Regions from separate parts of the Homo sapiens genome. Here region 2 is linked to region 1. The links come from fine-mapping of genetic effects on gene expression. A gene starts in region 1. The other region holds a variant in brackets. All regions are shown on one strand. Distances are between the middles of the regions. Region 1 holds the start of TMEM140 (transmembrane protein 140). Region 2 has its middle 4.1 kb from the start of CYREN.

Region 1 (5,386 bases):
GTGGACAGCCATCCCAACCACCAAGTTTTTAATGAATGCTGTGATGTTTTGATTTACTTAATTATTCCATGTAAATAAAACAGCTTTATCAGACAAAATAGGACTATACCATGAGATTATAACATAAAGTCAGAAGCATGAGTCCAGGCACCCAGATGACAAGCCATTGAGATAGCTGTTTAAATGGTTCCATTAATATTAACTTGCTATTTGTGCAATTGTTTTGTTGACTATTAGCTCTCACTAGCAGATAATCCAAGTGGGAACAAAGATTACAAAAAGTTTAGAGGGAGAAGAAAATCCTTAAAAATGAGAAAATGTCTACAAATGAGCCATCTTAATTTGTTTGTTTGTTTGAGACAGTCTTGCTCTGTCACCCAGGGTGGAATGCAGTGGCACCATCTTGGCTCACTGCAATCTCTGCCTCCCGGGTTCAAGAAATTCACCTGCCTCAGCCTCCTGCCACCACGTCCAGCTAATCTCATTTGGTTTCTGTTGGCAGGACTCCACGGTCCAGTTTGTGGGCGGCCAAGATTCACAAGATTCAGAGTTTGAGAATCAGTAGTACCAGAAACTGGTGACTGCCTTTGGCTGTCAATGGTTAGTTTTCCCGCACCAGCCCTCTCTTCCGCAATTACAAAGGCAATTTGCCACCCACTTCGACTCGTGGGGTCAGCATTTCATCTTGTAACTCTGTTAGTGACACATTTTGGATGACTCCCTGAATCAGAGGCCCTGGGGAATCAGTGCCACACAGGACAAACCAGGTGCCTGCTCTCATTGAGCTTGTACTCTAGTTGGGAAGGCAAACACCAAATGTATTTTTTAAAAGGTAATTATAATTTTTGAAAAGGTTTGGGAAAGAAATAAACAGGGTGAGTGAGAGAGAGAAACTGGCAGGAGGAAGTGATGACTAGATTATAGGGTCAGGGAAAGCCTCTCTTCAGAAGAGATATTTGTTTTGAGTCCTGAAAGGGTTCTTCATTAACTAATACTGAAGCAATTGATCAGCTAACTAGAAAAGAGAAACAAAACTATTTTAGGTCCTCATCTCACTCCACATACCCAAATAAATTTCACATGGATCCAAGAGTGAAAGGTAAAACCAGATAAAAAAATCAATGATCTGGAAAAAAGGATATATTTGATTTATGAGTGAAAAATAAAATTTGGAACTTAAGAGCAAATGGAAACTACAAATAAAGAATTGCACAGGTTTAACTATTCTAAAATAAAGATTTCTATTCACCAAAAACAACATAAATATAATTAAAAGTCAATGAGCATGGAAAATATCTACCACAACTATGAAATGATTAATGTACTTAATGTTTAAAATGTTTACGCAAACTGTCAAAAAACATTACACCTCATTAAAAATGGACAAATATGAAGAGATAATTCACAAAGAATGCAAAGTAGTTAACTAACATGAAAAAAAATTCTGTAACTTTTCTAATGTAATTAAAGATACGCCAAGTAAAAAACCAGAGTTTCCCTATCAACACTGTAGGTAAAAACACTTGATGATACCAAAAATATGGTTAAACTGGCATTCTCACACAATGATGGTGGATGTGAACATTTGTACAAACTTTCAGGGAGGCAGATTGGCAATAAACATTAAAAACCCTAAAAATAGTCATATCTCTTTGGCCCACTTTTATAAATCTATCCTAAGACAGCAATCAGAAATCCAGTCAATAATTTATACATAGGAATGTTCAGCACAGCATTACTTTTGGCACAAAATGGGAAGCAGCTTGAAAGTCCAATATCAGAAGTAAACTATGATGTATCAAGGATAAAATACTATGCATCTTTTAGAAAAAGCAGGTATAAAATCACTCTACATAGTGTGACTACATCCATATAAAGAGGCATAGGAGAAAGAGACTAAAGAAGTATTTGAAAATGTTAATGTTAGCTGTGGTAGCTCTGGGTGGTGACATTACAGGCAATTGTTCTCTATTTGCAGTAAAATATTTTTAGAATTATGTGCTACATTTATGAAAAAAAAAGAAATTTATAAAACAGGCATTCAAAACAGCCTTAGTAATTAGATAAAGCAGGGACTAAGCTGGAAAGAAAGTTGAGAAAGGGGAATATGTGCAAGATTGAAAAAATATCTCATGGACTGAGTCTCAGACCTGAGATTTTGGGGAATGGGGTATGGTAAGTGGATACTGAAAAATGCTCTTCAGTTATCATGAGGGAAGAAGGAAATATGTGTCTTTTCCCTCTTTCAAAGGAGCCTTTGATTTTATAGGCGAAGAAGCATAGTGGAAGTTATTAGTGAAACTAAGCCCACATTAAAAAAAATCTCTTAAAATATGCATCAAGAGAACTAAAATACCACCATGGATTTCCACTGGGGCATGAGGAGCAATCTGGTCTAATGACTAACATAAGATCTAAACATCTCTTAGGTCCCATTCTTTGAGGCAAGAACACAAGTTTTTCTGTTGATATTAATCTTCAGTGTGTATTTTAAAGTTTTATGATGTGTTCGTAACTACCATTGAATAGTGGTTTAGTTAGTGTTGGTCGGTGACCTGCTTTTGTTTACCTATTTCTGATGAACAGTGTATTGCACAAGCCACAGCCATGTCCTTGTACACACTGCGTGCAAGACTCTGCTGTGTGCAGTCAGCCCTGCATCGTTTCTAACCAGTTATACTGGCCTTACTTTCATCATCTTTGAGGCCAGAGCTACACATGTTGATGCCGAAGAGTGGAAGGAAGGAGAGCAGAGAGTAAAGGGGGTAGATTATGTAGATTATACAGACATGAGCGAGGGAGGGTCACAGATACTGAACAACCAGTGAGTTCCCCTATGTGGATTGCCAGAACATGAAATATCTGAGAAGAAAACAAAATTGTCTTACAAGGTAGTAGACGTCTGGGTAAGCTGTGATGCTTGCAGGATCGGTACTTACAGAAAGGAGGTGCAGAGACCACAGGAACACTCATGAAAAGGAGAAGCAGGAAATCAGGGTTGGTTGTTTGAATCTTCCTTCTCGCTGGCTTTCTAATGTCAGACTCCAGAAAGGAGGAGTGGAAGGGAAATGGCAGGCAGATGCAGTCCTGAGCTGGTGCCCCCTTGCCTTCGCAGTCGTGCCTAGTAAACAGCTCTCTGAACTTTGGTACATTTGTTCTGACTGATGTCACTATCAGCTGATTTCACTTTCGTTTCCTAACTTGCCAGTGGCCCATGACTTTTCAGAAATGAGGTATGTAAACAACTTTTTATTGTCCATTATGACATACTCTTTACCTACACTGTAGCCGGCAAACCAACTGATTTAAAGAGCCAGGTAAATGTCTTGATTATATCACACAATAATTCCAGAAAGGGAAGGAGCCAAAGAACTCTCGAAGCTCCCAGTGATTTAAACTGCAAGATAAACACAACCCGGAATTTTATTCAGAAGAAACCCATCAGGATCATCTGGTCCAAGCTCCCAGCCAGTGTGGCAGTCAGGACCCAGGTCACCTCCTACTCATTTCCTTGGGAAGCAGCTATGCCGTCTGTCCCCCAACCCCTTTTAGAGATCAATTTTGTAATGATGACTGGGCTTCTCTGGACACAAAACTTTGTGTCCTGAGCATTCTCACTGCAGTGTTTAGGCCCATGTTGGAGCAGCTGGAACATCTATTTTATTTCAAAATAAGAGCCGAACAAAGCTTTTATTTTTGTAAGCATTGGGGCTCCTGGCCAGAGTTTAAAAATTGCTTCCGTTGCTCACATGACCAACTGGAAATTTCAACTGTGGGTTAAACTTGGTTACATGAGACTGCTACCTAGTGCTATTGCTGAATCCTTCAGCGGTTCTCTTCTGCTTCCTTGCCCTTCCTCCAAAGGAGGAGTTATTTGAACTGCTACATTGCCCTCCCCCTGCCCCTAGTTCTTTTAAACGCAAACTCTAGAAAGAGGTGATGGGATCCAGGAGGAAGGAAGAACAGAGGCTTTGAGATCAGAGAGTTCTGCTACATACTAGCAAATTATTTAATCTCTTTGAGCATCAATTTCTTATCTGTAAAATGGAAACAGTACCTACTTTGCATGGTTGCTCTGGGGACTGGAGATAATATAAGTGCTTAGTACAATACTGGGACCATAGTAATGGTAGCTATTATTATGAAAAGTGGAATTTCTGTATATTTAGTCTAGCATCCATATTAATGCCTTTAAGACAGAAAATTAACTTTTAGATACTAATATACAGTAGTTACTCTGAAAACTCAATACTGGTGAGTGAAGTGATATAGAAGAGATAGAAACATATTTATATTTATGAAATTTATTCAAGGTTATCATGTACCTAGTTTTCAAAGAGTCAGTTTTTCAAAACTTACGAAAATCGGCAGTCCCACACTCTCCCTTTCTTCCTCTTCAGAGGCAAGCACTTTCACCTGTGCTCATTCTTTAGGCATTTACCTCAGTTCTCTAAATAACATGCTTGGATTGGTACTTCTTGATTTTTCAGTTTCAGGCATAATCTACTGACTCCCAACCATAAAAGGTGAAGATTTAGCTTTCTTCTTCCCCACTGCATGTTCCAGAAGTATGCTTCCTCTCTTCCTCCTCTATCCAAATTGGTTATAGTTTTGTTTAAATCAATATTCAGTGTTTACAATATTGGAATATGCACAGGTATACTTTATTTTATTGTGCATCTCTCTTTGTGGATCCTGCATCTTTTACAAATTGAGGATTTGTGGCATTTTTGCATCGAGCAAGTCTATTGGCACCATTTTTTCAATAGCCTTTGCTCACTTCATGTCTCTGTGTCACATTTTGGTAACTTTTGCAACATTTCAAGCTTTTTCATTATTATTATGTTGGTTATGGTGATCTTTGATGTTACTATTGTGATTGTTTTGGGGTGCCATGAACCGCACCCATATGACGGTGAACTTAATTGATAATTCAGTTCTGACCGCTCCACCAACTCTGTGTTGGTGTTCTGACCGTGTGTTCTGACCACTCCACCAACTGGACGTTCCTCCATTTCTCTCTCACGTTAGGTCTCCCTATTCCTGAGACACAATAATACTGAAATTAGGCCAATTAATGTCCCTACAATGGCCTGTAAGTGTTTAAGTGAAAGGAAGTGTCACATGTCTTTCATTTAAAATTGGAAACTAGAAATGATTAAGCTTAGTGAGGAAGGCATTGTGAAAGCAAAGATAAGCCAAATGTTAGGCCTTATGTTGTGAAGGCAAAGGTTCAGATGATTGTTAGCATTATTTAGCAACAAAGTATTTCTAAATTAAGGTATGTCCGTTAGGTTTTTTTAGACATAACAGTATCACACACTAAATAGGCTACCTTATAGTATAAACATGACTTTTATATGCACTGGGAAACCAGAAATTCGTG
Region 2 (5,386 bases), 26 kb before region 1:
GGTTTGGCAACACCGCATGTAAGGTAACAGTAACTTTATTTATGTCCCATAGGTCTTGCACAGGCCTGAACCCACCAGACGGTTTTTGCACTGGTTAAGAGTAGAGTATTCCAGGGTGACTTGCATTTCTTTATGATCCCATGTTCTAATAGCCGATTTATGTGCTTGGTCATTCCTCGCACTGCCTCTGTAGACACCTGGTACTGGGGAATACGCACTGGAGTTGCACCTGGAACTAACTTGACTACCACTGGTGCCCGGTTTATGACCAATCCTGGAGGACTGTCTTCTGCCCACACCTCAGGTATTTCAGTGACTAGTTTGTCAAATATTCTGTCCATAAATTCAGACAGCCTGTACACCTCTTTTACATATAGCCTCCATTCCTCAGTCTCGTGGAGGGTAAGAGTTAACATCATAGCTTTTGGTCAGCTTAGATCCAGAGTCATGTTTCCTTCTGGCCTGAAAGAAATTTGTGCTTGTAGTTTCTGAAGCAAGTCTCTCCCTAACAGGGGCACAATAAAGTCCATCTTTTGGCCTCCCACTTTCATAGAGACCAGGGGCTCCTGGAGGCCTAGAGAGATGGAGCCCAGTCTGTCTCAGTCCTTATATTCCTCAACTCCTGCTAAGCTGACCAGATCGGCATCCAGCTTTAGAACAACGGCTAGTGGCTGCAGGCCTTGGGCGGGCATCAGGTCCCTGGCTGCTACTTTCTTCCTTTTCTCTTTCTGGACATTCAACCTTCCAATGCCCTTTCTGTTTGCATTCTTGCACACTGATCCCTCTCAAGCCTAGGCTGGCCTTCAAACCCTGGCCTAGCTTGTCCTCTACTGTGACCACGACCAAGTCCGCGTCCTCTCACAAAACCAGTCTCTCAACCAGAGCAGCAGCCAACAAATCAGCCTTTTCCTTGGCTTTGTGCTTTGCCTCTTTCTTGGCTTCCTCCTCTGGATTAACAAACACCTTAGTAGCTACTTGAATGAGCTGGGTAATATACATAGCCTCAAAACCTTCCAACTTCTGAAGCTTCTGTCTAATGTCACCTTGTGCCTGGCCCATAAATGCCACGTTAACCATGCATTGATTCCCTACATCCTCCAGATCAAACGATGTATAAAGCCGGTATGCTTCACAGAGTGTTTCATAAAATTCACTGGGACTCTAATCAACCTTTTGGCATACCTCTGAGACCTCTCCCAAATTCGCTGCCTTTTTCCTTCTGGCCTTTATTCCATTAAGGGGTGCCTCCCGATACCTATGCAGGTTTTGCAATTCTCCTGCCTGGTTTGGATCCCAATTTGGATCTGCTTCTGGGAACCTCTTCTGTGCCTACCGCTTAACATCATTTGTGCCTTCAGGCGCATTGCTTTCTAACCACTGTAAGGCTGCCTGAGTAATTCTCCTGCGCTTTTCTGTATTGAACAATATTAAAAGTAGCTACTGACAATCAGGCCAGGTAGGGTTATGAGTCAGAAAGATGGACTGCCTGAAGTCTATGAGGGCCTGGGGCTTCTCCGTGTAGGAGGGTGTAAGCTGTTTCCAGTTTAGGAGGTCAGTCTTCTTCTGTCAATGCCTAATGTTACATATTTTCCTTTATTCCACTTTGAGTCTGAGGGGTTTGTGATTATCAATTCTAAAGGATCACAGCTCCCACTCGTGCAGGAGGGGCTGCCTTTCCTTTTTGGAGCCAAACAGGATATTTTTTTTATCTTCTTTCCAAGTAGCCTAAATGACACAAGACCAGTACTGACACATCTCACATAAATATGATTTTTGACAGATGTACTTATTTTCTGCTGTGTAACTTTTTTCTCAATCTAGAGAACCGCATTCTATCCCATGCTGTTTACTATTAATAGCGGCACAAGCATCAAATTTTAAGGTTACATTTTTGGGGACCCCTCTTTCTTCTGTTCTAGCTATTACCTTACTTGTGTCACCTAGAAAAGGACCAGTCCTTAATTTTATTTTAAAAACTGTGATCATGGGAGGCTTAAAATGGGTCATAACGCGCATCAGGTTGGTTATTTCCTGGGCTACATACCTTGGATAGAATAGCATTATACAAACAAGTTTCTTTTAGAGTCCTGGTACACTTATAATAACCATAAAATAATAGGACTGTAGCAATCTTTTGTCCTACCTTAGTGACTTGATGTATATACTGGAAACAGTTCTCAGTCTGAGGAAGGTCAGTTGAAGTCCTTACCGTTCAAGTCCAAATTTTAAGGAAAATGAGTCTGTGATGAGTTTCCTCATGTTTCAGCCGTGCGTGGACCAGTCAGCTTCCAGGTGTGACTGGAGCAGGGCTTGTCGTCTTCTTCAGAGTCACTTTGCAGGGGTTGGCGAAGCTGCTCCCATCCATGTACAGCTCCCAGCCTACTGATGTTTAAGGGTGGTCTCGGTGGTTGGGCCTACTAGAATAAACTGAGTCCAGATATGGTTAACTGGGCTCTCTGATACCAGGAGGAAGGTGGCAGGGTTTAGGGTGTGCAAACGTCAATGGTTATGTGGGGATTTTCACAGAGCTAGCTTTGGCATCTAGTTAGTCTAGCATTCATCTAGCATGGTGTCCTTTGGTATTTATTAAAATCACCACAGCATGGGGGGAGTTTATGTTTAGGTTTTGTGTAAGAGTTAGCTTATCTGCTTCTTGTGACAGGGCCGTTGCTACCAGGGCCCTTGGACATGGGGGCCAGCCTTTGGAAACCCCATCTAGTTGTTTTGAGAGATAGGCCACTGGCCTTGGCCAGGGCCCTACAGTCTGGGTTAAAACTCTAACTGCCATTTTTTTTGTTTCTGACACATAGAGCGTAAAGAGTTTTGTCAGGTCAGGTAGCCTCAGGGCTGGGGCCGACATGAGTTTTTCTTTTTAACTCATGAAAAGCTCGTTGCTGTTGGTTGTAATAGATGTAGTTTATCTAATCTACATTTTTATTGACTGTCATCTACCAAAATATTGACTTAAATCCTGTAACTATTTGATTTCAAGCTTTAAATTGATCTGGGACTCCTTGCGGGGCTTCAATTGCATCTAAATAGATGTGAGAGTTGAAAGACCTATAAGGAGCTTTTCTCGCTTTATGATGTCTTCTTCTT[A/C]TTATTATTTTTTCCTCTTGTTGATGAAATGTCAGGGTGAAAGGGATAGCCAAATGGACTAAAGCACAAGTGCCACTCTAGTTACTCGGCAGAGTCCCCAATAAAGGTCTACCACAATACCACCACACATCCGCTTTGGGATGAACAAGGGCTGACTGATTGATAAGCTCTTGAAAATTCTTAAGCTCACTGCATCCCTTCAGGTCTCCAAGGAATGCTAAGTCTCCTCCCTGCCATGAGAGACACGTAGTGAACTTAGTGTTGGGAGATGGAAGCTGGATGGCCCTCGGGGGCTGACCTGCAGGGACTTTGGGATATAGCAGAGAGAGCTTGGCATGACTTATTACTCCAGGCTATAGAATCCTGGAAAAGAGCTACCATGCAGCCCATGCCTGGCCGACTGGAGGACCACCTTAGTGGAAGGGGGACAATCAGGGCCTCTGGCCTGCCATGTGCACAAGCATGCTAATTGCTTTTGTTTAACCTGCAGATGGAATATTTGATCCATTTCAACCAGGCATTTGCATCTTGGTATGCTGTCTTAATTGCCAAAGTTTGTTTTAAGTCTTTAACTTTTATGATCCTCTAGTAAAATGAATGCTTCCTTTAGCACCAATTTTTATTAGTTTTTAGACAAAAGAAAGCTAAACACTATTTTATATTTACTAATGCTTCCTGTATGACTTTTATACCAGATAAGCTAAATTTTACCTTTATATTAGTGTGTTATTAATGTTAAACTTAATTTTAATAAAACCTTGTAGACATATTTATCCAATTTTTTATGTTTGACCATAAGGTAAGATTTTATAGACTCTTTTTAACCTTTTATAATTTTTGTTAAAGAGCAGGTTGATGCTTTAAGAAAAACCTCTTGCATTTTTACTTTAATGTCCAGTTCACAGAAAAACTGGATGATACCTTTTTAACCTTAGCTAATATGTTTACACACAGAATTTTTTTTATAATTAACGTTTTAAAGCTTGCTTAAACTTTTAAAACAATAATTTTTTTAACCTTTTAATGTAGGTAAAAATCCACGTTTATGCCCCTTTATAATTTTTTTTTTTACCAAAGGTATATTTTACTTTTCTTATACATCTTGCACATGAACTGGTTTTTTTTTTTTAAATAGTACTCAGGAGGCCTCATTACTTTTAAATTATACAATATTTTTTGCATAAAAATTTTTTTTTATAATTTTTTTCTCACGACTTTCCCAGACAATTTTTTAACATGTCTCAATTTTTTGACTGATTAACAAACTTTTTTTTCTTTAAACAACCAGTTAATTTATTTCAGGACAAGAATTTACCATATAACTTTTTTTTAATATAAATTCTGCCTCCCCCCTTTTCTTTCCTTTTTAAAAAAGCGAACTTTCTTTATGTCTTTGGACTAGACTGTCTAAGGCCACAAGATTAGAAGTTACCAAAATACATGTTACACTGTTAACTTTTAGCAAACTTCACTTTTGTTGAAAACCTTGTAAGTTTGAGATTTCAATTATCCTTTGCTATTAATAAGAACTTGTTTAGTCTAAACTCTTAGAATTGGTACAGATGGCCTCTTTTTCTCTTTTCTGGTCGTTCCTTGGCTCTGCCAGCCGCTTATGCTGCTGTTCTCTTAACTACTGTGGTGGGGGAAAGGGGGTCTAAAACCAGCTGTAACTGTCTATGTACAGAAACCGGTCTGGGTGCTTTGGCTTACAGGTTACCTTGTGCCATACCTTTGAAACAAGGGACCTGTCCAGGCTTCCTTCTGGTGGCCAACCTACCTCTAATGCTAGCCAGTCTATTTCACACAAAGTTCTAAGTTTTCCTGGTGTCATACTAACACCGTAATCTCCTTTAAATTCTCTCTTGAAAAAAAATTTTTTTAACATAGGTCCCAGTGGGGTGGGCTTACTTTGCACCTGACCCATGTTTTTTTTTTTTTTTTTCCAGACAAAATACCACGCTCACACCACACATACCACAAGACAAAGAACAGGTAAAGAGGGCACACACACTTTTACCGTTTATACCAAACCAAAATCACGAAATTCAAAATCCGAGTACCAAAAAATTCAAGCCAAGTCAAAACCAAAACCAAAGTATCCAGCAATTCAAGTCAAGTCAAAACCAGAACAAGAGTGCCCATGCAGGCATGCTGTGGGTGATCAGGCCACGTTTCCACTCAGATGGAGTGGGGCAAGTTCCAAAGACTAGTCTTACCAAGTCAAGCCAAGTCAAAACCAGAACAAAAGTGCCAATACAGGCACACCGTGGGTGATCAGGCCACGCTT

Evidence for each region. PIP is the estimated chance that this variant, and not a neighbour inherited with it, causes the effect.
Region 2: its variant is the best candidate, but not a certain one, in a credible set for the expression of TMEM140 in whole blood (TOPMed, PIP 0.54).

Annotation. Positions count from the first base shown.
Region 1 is chr7:135,145,824-135,151,209 of GRCh38, reverse strand. TMEM140 (transmembrane protein 140) reads right to left here and starts at 3,138. Exons shown (of 2, transcript NM_018295.5): 1 at 2,940-3,138. It also overlaps a transcript of CYREN not described here. RefSeq lists an enhancer at 2,860-3,359.
Region 2 is chr7:135,172,126-135,177,511 of GRCh38, reverse strand. It overlaps a transcript of CYREN not described here. Among named protein-coding and RNA genes, the nearest start is that of CYREN, 4.1 kb to the right of the region's middle. The variant A/C (reference allele first, on the strand shown) is at 3,100.